Regions from separate parts of the Homo sapiens genome. Here region 2 is linked to region 1. A link means that fine-mapping ties the variant in region 1 to the expression of a gene that starts in the linked region. Tissue or cell type: blood mononuclear cells. Region 1 holds a variant in brackets; the other region holds the start of a gene. All regions are shown on one strand. Distances are from middle to middle. Region 1 has its middle 20 kb from the start of TMEM106B. Region 2 holds the start of TMEM106B (transmembrane protein 106B).

Evidence for each region. PIP is the estimated chance that this variant, and not a neighbour inherited with it, causes the effect.
Region 2: it holds the start of TMEM106B, and the variant in region 1 is fine-mapped to the expression of TMEM106B in blood mononuclear cells (TOPMed, PIP 0.97).

What each region holds. Positions count from the first base shown.
Region 1 is chr7:12,186,774-12,196,135 of GRCh38, forward strand. No RefSeq gene overlaps it. Among named protein-coding and RNA genes, the nearest start is that of TMEM106B, 20 kb to the right of the region's middle. The variant T/C (reference allele first, on the strand shown) is at 4,160.
Region 2 is chr7:12,206,631-12,215,992 of GRCh38, forward strand. It overlaps TMEM106B (transmembrane protein 106B), which reads left to right and starts at 4,664. Exons shown (of 8, transcript NM_001134232.2): 1 at 4,664-4,795; 2 at 8,179-8,397. The coding sequence starts at 8,181. RefSeq lists enhancers at 4,063-4,212, 4,346-4,864, 4,423-4,472, 4,865-5,381 and a silencer at 4,653-4,962.

The DNA of each region.
Region 1 (9,362 bases):
TAGTCTAGATGATAAAATTAACCTAGTGGACTAATTTTATATCTTCTTTTCCTTTAATCCCACTAAAACATAACTTACCCAGCATCTCTGAAGCCCATTTTGAAAAATACTTCAGAAACTTACTTACCTAGCGCTACAATGTTCATTCCGTTTTCATATTGTTATTTAAATAATGTGTTATAAAGATTCACTATAGACATTCAGCCTAACTCTGAATAGTATTATTTTAAAAACTAAAAATTCCTGCTTTTTAAATTTTAAAATGCTTTGTGTTGCTTTCTCTTATCTGTCTTATTATTGAATATGTCACCAAATACCAAATGGTTTTATACACTAATAGTTCTAGCACCTTAAAAAAGAGATGAAGTTATTATCCAGGATAAAGTATAAATAAAAAATTTGCTGAATCCTAATCTGACCTGATGTGAATTAATACAGACTTCCATTTGTTTGCACCATCACTGTGTAAGGGTCCATCTAGTTAAAAACAGAACATAAGCAAAGAATAAATCAATAGGTATCTAGTTATTTATTATTTTGTATTAACATAGAACATAATTACAGTTTATTCTTATACATTATTTGTTTATATAAAAGCCTACCAATTTTACAGCTTGACTGTTTATAAGCAATAAGAAGGCTTTATAGGATCATCCTATCAAGGTGGGCTACTTGTATAATAACTGGAGTTTACAGAGAATCCACAATTCAGTCATTTGAATGACTGGATATTCATCAAGCTTTAGAGAGAAAATAATTAATCAAGAAGAAATATGTTTCCTATGTTTTCAGGTCAAAATATTACATCTTCTTTGTAAGATAAATGTTATTTCACAGTAAATAAAGTCTACAACATGATTAACCTCATATGAATTAATTGGAGAATCTTGAAGAAGCTAAATATAATGTTTACATTGATGAAGCTAAATCTAAGGTTTGTCTAGTAATTCCAATTTATCATTTTTCCAAAAAAAATTGACATATAGAATTATGCACTGGATGTTCAAATTCAAATACTTTATCATAAACATTTATCCATTTTCCACTATAATTTCTTTTATATTAATTTGAGCCAAATGTAAGATACTGCAGAAATTGTAGCTTTATATGGTTCAGCCTACATGTATCATCAAAAACACTAAGGGGCTTAAATACGAAATAAATAAAAAGAAAATGTAAAGAAGAATGCTGGCTTTTTTAAAGATAGACAAGCCTCTTTACTTGTGTTGTAAGCAAATTATTTGAAAAAAAATTAGGAAAATCACAGAAAGTATTAACATCCAAATGGCTCTTTCACTTTGAAAAACTTACATATAGCATTATGAGGTTGAAATAACCAATGTACGTGTGACATGTAAAATTACACTTTAACTTAATATTATAATCAGTGAGCTAATGGATGAGAGATTAATAAATTAAGACATTTCACTCTACACTGAATAGTTAAGTATGATTCATGCATAATTCTGGTTATAATTTATAGAGATTAACAATGAATTTGTAAAAGAAGAGATCCTTTATTTTTCTTTGAAATTTGACAATGGCAGGGCCTTGTTACCATCTCATGACTTAACAACCATATTGTGATACTAATGAATAACTTGTGACAACTGACACCTGATACTGCTGTAGCCAAAAACCTAGGGAGCAATCTGGCATAAATTTGTTAAGAATGTTAATGTCTATAATTAATTTTAATTCTGAACTAACTGTAAAATTGATACATTTTGGAGGTCATAAAGGTCAATTATCTATGGTGATTTAGGATATTGATACTGAACTGAGAGAAAAAAATGATGAAAACACCACTAATCTCATATTCAGTTTGTTAACTTATAAAATTTACAAAATGTTTAAACCAAATGAAATGTAATCAGATGATTTGAGAAATATTGTCTAGGGAAAGACACTAACAGTACAGAACTTTAAATATTCAAAATCTTCAGTGTAAGGTTGCTATAGTTTGGATCTCCCCCCAAACCTCATGTTGAAATCTGATCACCAACATTGGAGGTGGAGTCTAATTGGGAGAATCTGGCTCATGAGGCAGATTCCTCCCTCATGAATGGCATGGTGCTGTCCTTGTGATAATCAGTGAGTTCTTGTTCTATTAGTTCCAGCAAAAGCTGGTTGTTAAAAGAGCCTAGTCCCTCCTCCTCGGTTTCTTGCTTCCTCTCTTGCCACGTGATCTCCACACATGACAGCTCCACTTTGCCTTCCACCATGAGTAGAAGAAGCCTGAGACTCTCACCAGGAACAGATGCTGGTGCCATGCTTCTTGTCCAGCCTGCAAAACTATCAGCCAAATAAACCCTTTTTTCTTTACAATTTACCCAGTCTTGGATATTCCTTTATAGCAATGCTAAATGAACTAAACCAAAAATCGATATCTAGGAGTTGGGGGGTTGTTAAAGATATCTGAATATTTGAAGGGAGCTTTGAAACTGGGTAATGGACATAGGTTGGATGAGTTTGGAGGGCTCAGAAGAAGACAGGAAGATGAGGAAAAGTTGGAAGTTCTTAGAGACTGGTTAAATGGTTGTGACCAAAATGCTAATAGAAATATGGACAGTGTAGCCCAGGCTGATGAGGCCATAGCAAAGAACTTGGCTGCATTGTTTCCATGCTCCAGGTCTTTTGGGAAGGCCAAATTTAAGAGCAATGACATAGGGTATCTAGCGGAAGAAATCTCTAAGCTGCAAAGCACTCAAGAATTGGCATGCCTACTTTTAAGAGCTTACAATCAGATATGGAAGCAAACAAATGACTTAAAGTTGGAATTTATAACTAAAAGGGAAGCAGAGCATAAAATTTTGCAGGTTGGTCATTTGATGGAGAAGAAAAGAGCATTCTTAGGATAGGAATCCCAGGCTGTTGCAGAACAACCACTTACTAGAGAGATTAGTACAGATAAAAGGGAATCAAATGTTAATAGAACAATGGGAAAAAGACCCCAAAGGCATTTCAAAATCTTTGAGTCCATCCCTCCCATCACTGGCTCAGAGACCTAAAATAACAGGATGGTTTCAGGGGACAGGCCTGGGTCACGGCTACACTGCACCACCTTGGGATGCTACTCCTTAGGTTTTGACCACCCTAACTCTCACCATGGTTCAAAGAGCCCTAGGTACTACCTGGGCTGCTGCTCTGGAAGTTGCAAGCCATAAACCTTGGTGGCATTCATGTGGTGCTAAGTCTGTAGGTACTCAGAATGCAAGTGCCATGGAGGCTTGGCAAATTCCACCTAGATCTCAGAGGATATATTGGAAAGCCTGGGTGCCCGGGCAGAAGTCTGTCATGAGGTAGAGCCACTGAGAGAGCCTGTACTTGGGCAGTGCCTAGTACAGCTGTAAAAACAAAGGCACTACTCTCAGACTACAGAATTATAGAGCCATTGGTAGCATGCACCTTGTATTACTCCATTTTCACACTGCTGATAAAGACAGACCAGAGACTGGGCAATTTACAAAAGAGAGCTTATTTAGTTCCGTGTGGCTGGGGAGGCCTCACAATCCTGGCAGAAGGTGAAAGGCATGTCTCACATGGCAGCAGACAAGAGAAGCGATCTTGTGCAGGGAAACTACCCTTTATAAAACCATCAGATCTCATGAGACTTATTTACTATCACCAGCACAGGAAAGAGCTGCCCCTATGATTCAATTACCTCACCAGGTCCCTCCCACAGCACGTGGAAATTTAAGATGAGATTTGGGTGGGGACACAGCCAAACCATATCATTCTTCCATAGCCCCTTACAAATCTCATGTCCTCACATTTCAAAACCAATCATGCCTTCCCAACAGTCCCCCAAATTCTTAGCTCATTTCAGCATTAACTCAAAAGTCCACAGTCCAAAGTCTCATCCAAGACAAGGCAAGTGCCTTCCACCTATGAGCCTGTAAAATCAAAAGCAAGTTAGTTACTTCCTAGATACACTGGGGATACAGGCATTGGGTAAATACAGCTATTTCAAATGGGAGAAATTGGCCAAAAGAAAGGGGCTATAGGCCCCATGCAAGTCCAAAATCCAGCAGGGCAGTCAAATCTTAAATCTCCAAAATGATCTCCTTTGATTCTGTGTCTCACATCCAGGTCATGCTGATGCAAAAAGTGGGCTCCCGTGGCCGTGGCTTTGCAGGGTATAGCCACATCACTTGCC[T/C]GCTTTCATGAGCTGTCATTGAGCTTCTGGCTTTTCCAGGTGCACAGTGCAAGCTGTTGGTGGATCTACGATTCTGAGGTCTGGAGGACAGTGGCCCTCTTCTCACAGCTCCACTAGGCAGTGCCCCAGTAGGGACTCTTTGTTGGGGCTCTGATCCCACATTTCCCTTCTGCACAGCCACAGCAGAGGTTCTCCATGGGGGCCCTGCCCCTGCAGCAAACTTCTGCCTGGGCATCCAAGTGTTTCCATACATCCTCTGAAACCTAGGCAGAGGTTCCCAAATCTAAATTCTTGACTTCTGTGCACCCACAGGCTGAACACCATGTGGAAGCTGCCAAGGCTTGGGGCTTGCACCCTCTGAAACAACGGCCCAAGCTGTACCTTGGTTCCTTTTGGTCATGGCTGGAGTGGCTGGGACATGCTACTAAGCCCCTAGGCTGCACACAGCACAAGGATCCTGGGTCTGGCCCAAAAAACCATTTTTTTTCCTCCTAAATCTCTGGGCCTGTGATGAGAGGGACTGCTGCAAAGATCTCTGACATGCCCTGAAGACATTTTCCCCATTGTTTTAGTGATTAACATTCGGCTCCTTGTTACTTATGCAAATTTCTTCAGCAGGCTTGAATTTTTCCTCAGAAAATGGGATTTTATTTTCTATCACATTGTCAGGCTGCAAATTTTCCAAACTTTTATATTCTGTTTCCCTTTTAAAACTGAATGTCTTTAACAGCACCCAAGTCACCTCTTGAATGCTTTGCAGCTTAGAAATTTCTTCTACCAGATACCCTAAATCATCTCTCTCAAGTTCAAAGTTCCATAAATCTCTAGGACAGGGGAAAAATGCCACCAGTCTCTTTGCTAAAACATAACAAGAGTCACCTTTGCTCCAGTTCCCAACAAGTTCCTCTGCTCCATCTGAGACCACCTCAGCCTGGATTTCATTGTCCATATCATTATCAGCATTTTGGTCAAAGCCATTCAACAAGTCTCTCTGGAGTTCCAAACTTTCCCACATTTTCCTGTCTTCTTCTGAGCCCTCCAAACTGTTCCAACCCCTTCTTGTTACCCATTTCCAAAGTCACTTCCACATTTTCAGGTATCTTTTCAGCAGTGCCTCACTCTATTGGTACCAATTTACTGTATAAGTCCATTTTCATACTGCTGATAAAGACATACAAAGACTGGGCAATTTACAAAAGAAAGAGGTTTAATGGATTTACAGATCCATGTGGCTGGGGAGGCCCCACAATCATGGTGGAATTTGAAAGGCATGTCTCACATAGTGGCAGACAAGAAAAGAGGGTTCGTGCAGGGAAACTCTCCTTTATAAAACCATCAGATCTTGTGAGACTTACTCACTATCATGAGAAGAGTATGGGAAAGACATCTGTCCCCATGATTCAATTACCTCTCACTGGGTCCCTCCCACAACACATAGGAATTCAAGGTGAGATTTGCTTGGGGACATTGCCAAACCATATCACTCCTTCAGCCTGAAAAAGCCATTGATGTTTCTTCCCACTCATGAAAGCAGCCACATGGAGTACACCCGGCAAAGCTATTGGGGCACTGCTGCCTGAGGTCTTGAAACCCAGTCCTTGAACTAGTCCACAGAATGCAGGACATGAAGTTAAGGATTATTTTGGAGCTTTAAAATTTAATGTCATCCTTCCTGGGTTTTAGACTTGTGTGAGGCCTGTTACCCTTTTCTCTGGGCTGATTTATGCTTTTTGGAATAGGAATCTTTTACCCAATGCCTGTACAACCTTGGTATCTTGGAAGTAAATAACTTTTTTTTTTATTTTACGTGAACATAGCTGGAAGAGACTTGTCTCAGATGAAACTTTGGACTTTGGACTTTTGCTAGAACAAGTTAAGACTTTGGGGGATTGAAAAGGAATTATTATATCTTGCAATGTGAGGAGGACATTATTTCTAGGAGCCCAAGAACAGAGTGCTATAGTTTGGATGTTTGTTCTCTCAAATCTCATGGTGAAATTTGATGTCCACTGTTGGAGATGGGGCTTAATGGGAGGCTTTGAAGCCACAGAGGTGGATCCCTCATGAATAGATTAGTGCCCTCCCTGAGGCAAGTCGCAGGGATGGAAGTGAACTGCGGTGAGAACTGGTCATTAAAAATAACCTGGCACCTTGCTCCCTTCTCTCTTGCTTTCTCTCTCACCATATGAAGAGAGAATTTCTGCACATCTGGCTCCCCTTAGTCTTCTGCCATGAGTGGAAGCAGCCTGAAGCTTTCATCAGATGCCCAATCTTTCAGCCAGTGGAATTATGAGCAAAATAAACCTTTTTTTTCTTTATATACCCAGCCTCAGGTATTCTTTATAGCAACACAAATGGACTAAGACAAAGGTTAAAGACATTTTTAAAATTTAAACACCATTGACAACTTTTTTTTTTAATTTAAAACTAAATTTGAAGCATTTCTCTAGAGGGCAGAATTAGCCGGTAATTATGGTTGAGAGAATGATTCAGTGCCTTCTTGTTTAGTCCAGTACTATCACATTTTAGTTGCTGCTGTTGACACCTTGAGACAATCAAAAACAGAAAGTGGAAAAATACTTTATTAAAATTCCATCTTAAATTTCTTTCTCTGAAAGACATCCTGAGGTCATCAATGACTCTTGTATTTGAATATTTCCATCCAGCATCTAGAACATTAAATATACCAGGACTTCTAGCTATCTAAAATAATAATCCTTGTATTTCAGGCAGTATGGCTTAGAAGATAAGGAAGTGCATTCGATTTCAAAGTTACAATAATGTACAAGATAAATAGGATATTACTAGAGTTATAGCCTACAATGTAATTCATTATTTAGAACCACATAACATTTATTGTGAAATTTCCAAATTCTGTAATGATCAATTTATAAGGTATTGTCAGTATTATTGCATTATAGTAGTTTTCAAGGCTTAACTTTTATATTCCTAGAGTGCTCACTGTGTTGAATTCATTATAAAGACAATGTTCCAACATATATAAAGAAAAAGTAGAAGAGACAAGTCAACATACTGCCCTCATATTTTGGAACATTTTCTTGCAGTCTTAGCCTATTCCGTGCATTTACAGTTCTGTATCCTCCCTTAATACTAATTTAATTAGCTACTTCCATATTTTTTAATTTAAATTTTATTTTATTTTGTAATTTTAAAAACAAAGTTGAAAAATAGTCTTAGGAATACTTCAAACTGTTGGTTATTATATATTTCTGGTTATAAGTCTTTTTTTCATAAACAAAAAGTCTGAAAGAAGATTACACAAACATGGTAAAAAAAAAAAAAAAAACAGAAAAAACTGCTTTACTCACCATTACACACAGATAAAATTTATAAACTATGTCTCTGGATTCTTATTTATCTTTTCAGAAAGAAGCAATCTATAAACTATCCTTTCTTCTAGGAATGCTTTGACATTGACATTCCTGACCAGGTTTCTATGATGCATTGCTTCAGTATACTGATCCAGTATTAGATCCAATACTGATCTGATTTGTGTGGTCATTAGTAAGTCATACTGAATTACTATTTATAAGACAAATTTTCATTAACATGATAAAAATTAAGTTTCAACTGAGAATTAAAAAATGAATAAAAGAGAAAAATAAAGGATTAGATAATAAATACTACTTAATTCAACATGAATATTCATATTCAGTAAATTATGCTAAAATATTCATGTTAAATAAAATATGCTAAAATATTTATATTTAAAAATATGCTAAAATAAGGTCATTTCAAAGACATTAAAACAAACTGGCCTCCTAGAGTCATTCCAGACTGATGAGGAGAAGCTCATAGATCACTCATCATCCTTTGCTCAATGATAGCTTTGATTGATAGCATAAGATATCATCTTTGTATTTTATCTTGTTTAAATCTAAAGTCACACATCATAATATATTTCTATGTTAGCCACTTAGTGTAAGTAAAATAGTATATTTATGTTAGAGACTAAAAATTTATCATAACATCCCCCTAATCGGCATGCAATCCTTAAAGTGCGGCATCAACCTTATAAAGGGGAAAACGGATTACCTGCATACACATACGCGTACAAATATTCATACATCCACAAATTTGGATTCAGACTCATCTGAATTTTCAGCCTTGTGCTTTCCAGTCATACTGTTTCTTCTTTATATGAGAAGGCATAAGCATGAATATAACCATTCTTTTTGTGTTTGTTTTTGTTTTTAAACTCTTCTGTATCTAAGAGGTAAAAATAGATTCTTTTAAAAATCCCCTAATTAATAATAGTAATAACCAAGGTATGTACCCATGTGTAAGCAAATTATTGTAAGAAACTTCAGAATATTCTGTACCAATGTGTAAACATGTCATTGTAAGAAACTTCAAAATATTCTGAAGTAAACTTACAGTAACAACACCCATAAACTAATGTGTTCTGTGACAACTTAGAAAGCAATTCTTTTTCTGTGTGACATTTCATATAAACATGGTACCTTAATCCAAGTTTTATGATTTACTTACAATTATAATTTATTGACCAACATATTTTTTAAATAGACCATTTAATAACCGTATTACAATATGAATAATATCTAGAACATAAAAATATTCTGACTTTGGAGCTGGAGATCAGCCTGGTCAATATGGTGAAACTCCATCTCTACCAAAAATACAAAAATTAGCCAGTCATGGTGGTGGGCACCTGTAGTCCCAGCTACTTGGGAGGCTGAGGCAGGAGAATCACTTGAACCCAGGAGGCGGAGGTAGCAGTGAGCCAAGGTCGTACCACTGCACTCCTGCCTGAGCGACAGAGTGAGACTACACCTCAAAAAAAAAAAAAAATCATTCTGACTTTGAAATCTAATATTTTATGCCTTTGAATAATGCAGGAAAGTATTTAGAGTATAGATGATGAATTAACTAGTTGATAAGAGCAGTATACTAATGAGATTTTGGTTCCTTTACACTTCATTTAGTTTTGCATATCTTTTGCATATCTCAAAAATATACCCTTAAATCTTCAGACTGTGTGTCTTGGATTTCTATGTGTAATGTGCATGTGTATGTAGGTGTGTGAGAGACAGGAGTGAGCACACTGAATTAAGGTAAATGATCCTTATATCAAGAGCTATAAGTACATGTGTTTCTTACACTGGATTGATAGTACTGTTTATTTGAAAATGACATTTAACCATATTGCTTGTTAATTAAG
Region 2 (9,362 bases), 20 kb after region 1:
GATAATGCTAAAAAGTGAACTTTTTACTTCTAATATTTATTTCTAATATTTCAACTTGCTTTTTATAAATAGTTCCCATCTTTTTGCTAAAATTCCCTGTCTGTTCATGCATGTTTTCCATTTTTTATACAGATGCTTTAACATATCTATCAAAGTGATTTTAAAGTCTCTGCCAGATAATACCAAATCTGGGCCATTTCTGTATTTTCCCCTATTAATCATTTTCTCTCTTGACCATGGCTCACATTTTCTTGCTCCTTCATGTCTCATAATCTTTATTATATGCTAGATATTGTATAAAAGAAAACAGTAAATAACATGTACCTCAAAAAACATCTTGCCATTTTTTCTATCAAGATTATTGTTTGGAAGGCTGAATCAAATCTTTCAACAGTGAGTCAAAAACCCACATTCTGGGTTTTGTTGAAGTTTTGATTCAGTTTATTTACTATTGCTTTCAAATATGCTTGAGTTCTTGGCACTGGCAAAATCTCAAGATTAATGTGCACCTACTAGCTCATTCCACCAAACTATTCAATACTTTCTTAGCTCAAACACCTAGCTTCCAATATCTCCACAGGTTGTTCTGTTTACTCTCCAGTCTTGCCGGTCATTTCTGTGCCTCAGGAGAATCCTGGGCAGCCTGCCACCCTGCCTCCAGCCTTCACAGAGCTGCTGCAGTACACTGGTTAAAGGCCTAGAATCTGCAAAGAAATTTCTTCAGCATTCATGCCCTACCCCATGCCTTTAACATATGACATTTGAGCACTTAATGAAGACCTTTAGGAGAGAATTGGAGAGTGAGTGCACACTCGTTCTATCACTGGAACGACATGAGATTGTAATCTATCATCCTGGTCCACACACAGGGGTGTCATTCGGCAGGTCTCCCTTCGGCCCTGTTTATGGTGCATTCCTCCTTCTCCCACTGTTTTGTAGGTGATTAAAGCAACTCTAATTCTATTCTCTCTTAGGAAGCTCTCCTTATCTTTTGGATTTAAGTGTACTTAAATTTGCGTCCTCATTTCTTTGATAAGTTTTTTAAAAATGTTTAAAAAAAAAAAAACCTTCTCTAGCTTGTGTTTGTTGTGAAGAAACAGTCTTTTATAACATAAATCCTAATTGGACTCTGTGTTTTCCTTATTTTATATTCGGAACACCTCCTCAAGGATTTCTGGACCCAATTCTCCTCTTTTCAGCAGCAGTGATGATCACTTAGCAAAAGAGTGAAAATACCCTCTTTTCCCCCCCTAACCAGTTAACTTTACTCACCGTCATCACTTATCTTTGTGTAGTAAAAGTTGAGGACAGAATTCACTCTTCCAAATTTAATACAGATATTCATGCCACAGTGGTTAATAGCTGTAGCTTTGCAGTCAAAATATCCGAGTTCTAGTTGCTAGCTGTGTGGTCATGTGCAAGTCATAATACCTAGGATCCTCTATTTCCACTGTTTGAAATAAGATATGGGATAATAACAGAACCTAATCCATAGCATTTCTATAAAAATTAGATGATATAAACTACTTTACACAATGCCTGGCACAACAAATTCATTCATTGGCCAAGTGTTATTGAACTCCTAAAATTATTCTTACTAGAAATTATGATTATGACAAAAACCCTACAAAAGATGACTTGAATATTTGGGAAAGAAAGTTTTAACACATGGGAAAGATTAGCTCCATGCAGGTGTGAAGCAAGATGAATGAGACAGAGGAAATATAGAAGATCCTGCCTAAGAAGGAGTACAGAGACATAACCAAGAGTTTCAGATAGGTAAGTTATTTGCAGAAATTAATAAAGACCTCTGCTTTTAAAATAATTGGAATGACAAAGATGTGTCAATAGAGTCAGGAGTTTACTGCCTGTGAATGTAAGTCAGGTGGCACAGCGGGAAATGGTAGTTTTGCTAATGGTAGTTTTGCTATGTATCTGGGGCACTATCTCTGAAAATCAGCCAGACAAACTTCAATCTTTTCAATCCCTGGTTTCCAATGTAACCTATCCAGGTTTCTAACATAATCTGACCAGCATATCAGTGGAAGGGGGTGAGCTGAGAGAGACTTATATATTAACATTTGACAAATTATATGTTTCAAAATAATTATGTTCCTTTTCTGCTTATAATTTTTAACAGCTAATTTCTAGAAAAGTAATTTTTGCAAAATTTTTAGTTATGGCTGACTGCTATTAGGATTTGGGTGATTTACCATTAAAAGAGATAAAAGAGAATTGAAATGAGAGATAAGGCTGTTTTCAAGATTTAGTACAACCTAGAGAAATCCCTTAGCTTCAGCATCATACTAAATATAACCAGAAATCATTAAGAAAGAATGTTCTTCTATTCAAACTTATCCCAGACTGTTAAAATTACTGGCCTTTATATCTGATAGCACCTAGACCACTACTGAACTCGGAACTCAAGAAATCACTGTTAATCAAATAATTGGAAGCTTTTCAGAAAATTTTCCTTTCAAAATGTGCTTCAATGAAAAATAAGGCATAGGAACAAATGTACCAAACATTCAATATCTGTCTTTAAAGTACTTCCTTGTTATATGGATGATAAATTTGTAATCATAATATCTAATATTTACTGATTGCTCTGCAGGTATCAGCTCCCATCCATAACCCTTTGAGACAGACATTATTACTATCTTCATTTTGCAGATAATAAAAATTAGGTATAAAGAAGGCTAAGTATTTTGCCCACTCTTACAGAGATTTTGTATATCTCTGTCAGGCTGGGCTCATTTTCAGGCCATATGGCTCCCAAGGCTGTGTTCCCAACCCTGCTACTGAACTGCTTCTTACAGCAACATTCTCCCAGGAAGACTTATTCCTATGTGAATTCCAGGAATTTGGATAAGGAACTGTGCTATATGGCCAGCACGTTTTAAGTTAAATGATGAGGTTGAGAAAATACTAAATACTCCCTTAAGAATTAAAGAAAAAAGTAACTTTTTCACTTAAGAATAATATATATTACATTATAGAACCATTTGCCTATTTAACAATAATAAAGAAAAAACATCCATGCTCTCAAACTACAGGCAACTGTTTATATTTTGTATATTTCTTTCCATTTCAAGGCAGATATGTAATATATTTATATCTATATGTTATCTATATGTGAATATAGTTTACATCCTATTACAATACCTCATATCCTATACTTTGCATCCTGATTTTAATTTTATATCACTCCGCGTATAACAGCCTTATAAGATGGTTTTTACTGGCTTTATAAAAACTCAATAGATGGCTATTCCATAATTTTAAAAACTCAGTAATTCCAAGGGGAACATCATATCTCCACAGGTGGACTGTCAATAATTTTGAGAAAAATTTTCCCCCATGATTCTGATTTGTTTTAACCAACCTATTAATTTTGAAATTTCAAACAGTGTTAATGGAAGACACCCTGACCCTTCCCTTTGGAAAATATGGGCTAAATAAAAGCGGTTGAAAAATAATGATTTTATCAATGTCCCTTGTTGGACATTCAGTTTATTTAAATGGATACACCTCATACCCAAATCTTTTTAGAGTTCTCATTAGGTTTAGGATACTTCTGAAAGGGTGGAATTGCTGGACCAAACGATGTGAACATTTTAATAGTCTTGATACATACTGACTGTCTGCCAGAAAACTTAGGAGTTTTAAATCTCCGACAACATTGTATGAGAAAGCTCATTATCTCACATATGGATCTACAGTAATCCTCTTAAATTGTATATCGTTCTGACTTGTATTTCCTACTTTTACATAGCTTCATTTCCCAATTCCTGTTAGAATTCCCTGATTCTAACAGGATCACACTGATCCTGTTAGAAGAGAGAAATATATGACTCTCACTTCCTTGCTCCTGTGACTGTAAGAATGCCTACCATTCATTAAACGTTAAACTCTCCGCAGGAATGAGACTAGAGTGCCCTTAATATTATTACCGGCATCTCATTGATCCCTCAAAACGACTCCTTGTCGTTGTTCTTATCTTCTAAGTGAAATGACCTAGACGTTGGGGGAGGGCAGCCCCAACCCACAGCGAAGAGCTTAAGTACTGGGATCCGAGACGGGATTTCACACACCTGTAACTAGCACCAGAGTTAAGGGGTGGGGAGGGGCAGCGTGGGCAAAGCGAAACGAAACCGAGCAAAAACAAAAACTACGGCCTTGCCGCTTGCTGTCTCCTTCTAGTTGGCCAGTTTCTAAATTAAAATAGAGGTAGCTTTGCTGCTGTCAGCGGCGTGTGTACGGACCAGTTTATTCCATTCCTAAGGACCAGACTGTCAGCGACAACTCGCATTGCGTGAGCGAGGAGGCTGCTCAGCTGAAAGCTGAGGCAGATGGTGCACATTTATACCCTTTGCAAAAGGAAATGGTCTGATATGGGAAATAGGAGGAGCGACTGTTCCTAGGTAATTCGTGGCTACAGTGGACACTTTGAAGTCTGGGGGACGCGAAGGTAATGAAACCTGAAGAGCGCACAATCTCACACGATCGACGCCTCTGGGCTCAAACAGGAGGAAGAAGGACGCATGCGTCACGCGCACGCCAGGGGTGTCCCTCCGGGAGCGCTCTGCGCAGGCGCGGACGCAGGTTACAGCAGCGCTTGGCCTCTGCTGATGCCGTCGTTATCCTACCCCTCCCCCGTCCCAGCTCTACGGCGGCCGCGCGCTCCAGGCCGGTCGCTCCACCCCCCGGCTCCCGGGACTGTGGACTCCACGACCCTGTCCTCGGCCCTGTCCGCGCCGAAGCAGCCCGGGACTGCGCAGCGCCCCGCGTGCCGGTGAGCGACCCCGGACGTGCAGTCCCCAGGTCCCCTTCCGGAGCGAGGCTGAGCGGCTGCGCCGCGGCTTGAGCCGGGCCTGACAAGGAGGGGAGGCCGCTGGGGTGCTGGGCCAGCCGCAGGTACGGCGGCGGTCAGGGCTGGTGATCGAGTTGCTGTGTCGCCTCTAATGAGGCCCAGCCAGGGAACACTCGGCTTCGGCCCAAGCCCTACCTCTGGGTTGCCTCTAGGCCCTCACACCTTGAGCGCCAGGTGGCCCTCTTCCTTTTGCTGTTGATGAATGTTCTTGCCGTGGTGCCGGGATCTTATTTTGCAGCTTTACAGAGTAGGCTTTGTGCTAGGTGTTGTTTATGGAGCTTTTCAAAGGCGCTTGTTTCCTTAGTTCTCAAGCCCTTTTAGAACTAAAACCAGTGTCTACACAGAAGATCAGGAGCCATTTAAATTGGAGTGCTGTGATATATTTTTTCTCTCCAAACTGAGTCTGATATCCATGTTGACTTTCAGTAAACTAAGGAACCGCTATAATAAATAACACTGAGCCCACAGAGGTTGCAGAAGAGGGTCTAGCACCCCTTTTTTAAACCATTGAGTCTCCCAAGAATAAAAGTGGTTACACTTGTCAGTTCTCTAAGGAAAATCTAGTAGAGAAGGCAAGGGATTCCCAGTTTCTCACAGAGTCTGGCACTTGTCCAAACACCTACCCTAAAGCAGAATCGATCATGGCAGCTATTAGATTAGGACAGAAAACAGGCTCAAACGGAGAGCCACTTGAGTCTGCCTTTCTGTGTCTTTTTTCTCAACGCGCTCCAGTTAAGATGCAGCTTACAGCCTGGCTGTGTTGACTGAGATCCCAGAAAGAGTGCCCTTAAGGCCTTGCTGATAAGGCCCAATGATCCCAATTCATCTAGTGTTCCGCATAGACCCCAAGGTTACAGTGTGTGGGGACAGTGATGTTAAGTCTTCCCTATCCTACCTGTGGCTGACAGGTGTTGATTAAGACAATGATTTTTTAGAAGTCATAAATCATTTGTATTTTTGATGTGGGCAGTGATTTTTATAAATACATAGTTTTTTTTTTTTGAAAGAGTGAAAATCTCATTTTACATTTGTTTGCATACCATTTGTATAGTTTTTTAAATTCTGTTTATTTGAGTGACAGCAACAAGTGGATGGCATGCGAATTTTATTTATTTTTTTATCTTTGTATTTATTTTGTGTATATTCATGGAGTACAAGTGCCATTTGCTACATTGATACACAACATCCTGGTGAAGTCAGAGCCCTTAGTGCATCCAGCACTGGAGCAACACACATTGTACCCACCAAGCAGGCTCCTATCAGGCATGCCAGTTCTAGAAAGTAAAATTTTCTTCATACTCTAGGATGAACTGACTTACTTGGAATGTCTGTTTTGTTTAATCAAATAAGTGAGAATTTTTGAAAGAAATACTATCTGTCTGAATGTATGTAATCTATTTTTAGGAACCGCTAAAAGACATATCAAATTTAGAAGGAGTATAATTATGTTATTTTTCAGTTTTACTTTTTCACTTTATTTTTTCTCAGGATATAAGCAGGAAAATACCAGCAGGGTGTATTATATGACTGTTAAGTTCTTTTCAGCTTTAAAAGGGTATGACCTTAAGTATAAAGTTACTTCATTATCTACCTGCAGAAGTTATTTTTGTGTAGGCACTAGTACTAATTATTTATTTCTACTTAGATTTTTACATTTGTATTGTTATTTTGATACTCTTATCCTAAAATTTTTGAAGTTAGTGTTCTAAATTTTGCTGCTTTGTATTGGTAACTTATATTTAATATTTTGGAACATTGGCTTCATAATTTTAACTGTCAACTGTTGAATGAAAAAAAAACTGTGATTTTGGAATTTTGGGGCTTTTTATTGTTGTTGCGAGTGTTTAAATGTTTAAAGCAAGAAATTTAAGGATGGAAAAGAGTGGTGATTGTATTTATCACAAAGGTGCGTGAATTTTCAGAGGCTGAAACGTACTACTTTGAAGTTACTTGGTGATATACATCAAATACCTAGTTATCGTCTACCCAAAGCAATTTTTGCCTTTAGTGCTAACTAGTTAAAAGGTAGAATGTATTTTTATTTTATTTTAAGAAAAATGAAACCTGCATGTTTCTTTTCAGAGAACCTGCAGGTGTAGACTTTTGTCAAATGTTAATGTTTGAAAGCCCATTCTCATCATAAGCATGATAGGACATCATTTCACATTATTTGTTTAAAAAAACACTTCTGGACTCTAGTAAATGGCTCCTTTGTTTCAGACATTATTTTGATTGGATATAATCCTAATCCAAAAGGTATAATCCAAAAGGTAGTTTGAACATTCTCTTAATGTTTGTTCTGTAAACCAAAAATAAAATTCTGAGCCCCCCAACTAAGTGGAACCCGCTTCTCTGTCAAGGGCATTCCAAAGTAAACCTAAAAAGGTAGTTCAGGCCATGATGAAAAGGTGGGTGGAGGGGATTGAACATGCCCCGTTGTACCTTCCTCTCTTTGGAATTCAGGCACAACTGACCAGCATCAATTAAAACAGAGATTTGAAGACTAACAAGAGTCTCTTTGTAGCAATAAGATATCAAATCCCAACCTGACTCTAATATAGAATCACTCGACAGATAGCAGGCCCTGAGAGAAATTGAAATATCTTACCCCAAAATATATTTCTTTGAAATGGCCTTGCAAAGCTGTCTCTCGTGGGGAAGATCCACATTCTGTACAGAATCCCCTTTCCTTTCCAGATCTTTTCCTAATTCAGCAGCGATTTAACCAAGAGCCTGGAATATTTTAAGGAGTAATAAGAGACATTTACAAACTATTCTCTCTGAAGCCTGCTACCTGGAGGCATCATCTAGATAATCAGAACCTTGGCTTCCACATCCTCCTCCCTTGTCTTAACTACAAACATTTCTTTCTGCTGACTTCAACTCCTCAGGTAGAGTTTAACCGTTTCAACCAATTGCCATTAGGAAATCTTTAAATCCACCTATGCACCTATGACCTGGACACCCCCCAGCCTTCCACCCCTGCTTCAAAATGTCCTGCTTTTCTGGGCTGAATTAATGTATACCTTACATCTATTGATTTATGCCTCTGCCTGTAATTTCTGTCTCCAAAATGTATAATCAAGCTGTAACCCAACTACCTTGAGGACATTTTCTCAGGACCTGTTGAGACTGTGCCTCAGGCCTTGTTCACTCATTTTTGGCTCCGAATAAATCCCTTCAAATATTTTACAGAGTTTGACTGTTCCTTGACTGTTCTAAATTAATTAGTGTAAATATCTCAGAGTGTTCTTGAATGTACTTTTTTCCCTGAAGTTTACTGTAAGATTTTTATTTTTCTTTAGACATGGGAAAGTCTCTTTCTCATTTGCCTTTGCATTCAAGCAAAGAAGATGCTTATGATGGAGTCACATCTGAAAACATGAGGAATGGACTGGTTAATAGTGAAGTCCATAATGAAGATGGAAGAAATGGAGATGTCTCTCAGTTTCCATATGTGGAATTTACAGGAAGAGATAGTGTCACCTGCCCTACTTGTCAGGGAACAGGAAGAATTCCTAGGGGTATGTGTTATTGTATTGTTTTCCCTTTAAATGATTTTAGGTATTTGCTCAAGTATTATAAAAACTGTGGGTCTCAGGAACCACCTGTTTTAGAGGACTCTTAGAATTAAAGTTGAAACATCATATCAGTTACCTTCAGTCAAAAAGATGCAAAAGAAACAAATAAAGTATTAATTAAGGTTCCTAAAGCAGTAAAGAAAACCACCTCACTACCTCCAGTATTTTTTCATTCCCACCTGCTATTATAGCAGATATTCACTGTCTTGTAAATGAAAACTTTTAGTCCTATTTGGCATCTGTAGAGATGACATCATAGTTACTTGCTACTTTGCTATATCAGATGTTAGAAGCAATTTAAGTAATTTGTTGACCTATTTTTTTTTTTTTTTTAAGAGATGAGATCTCGCAATTGTTGGCCAGGCTGGTCTTGAACTCCTGTCCTCAAGCAATCCTCCCACCTCGGCTTCCCAGAGTGCTAGGATTATAGCAGTAAGCCACCATGCCCAGCCAGAGTTAATGTGTAAGGAAGCTTATTCTTTCATGTTATTTTTAAAATTTTATTTTTTTAATAATAAGGATGGAGTTTCCCCATGTTTCCCAGGATGATGTCGAATTCTTGGGCTCAAGCGATCATCCAGCCTTGGCCTCCCAAAGTGTTAGAATTACAGCTGTGAGCCACCACGCCTGGCCAACCTAATATTTTTAATTCATTATCTAAAGAAGAAGAATAAGCTGGCTGTGCCCTAATGAGTTAAAGAAACTCTGTGAAGAGGGATGGTACGTGAAAATGAGCCAAATTGAAAAAAAAAAATTGTTTGTGATATATCATAGGGGACGTCAGAAGGAAATAATCCCCTGTGTGCTGCTTGTAAGCTACTTTAGGAACAGTGGCAATAAGTAGAAATAATAAAGATACTTTATGCTGTTCTCATTATCTTCTTGGTGAAAGTTGATGTGTGACCCTG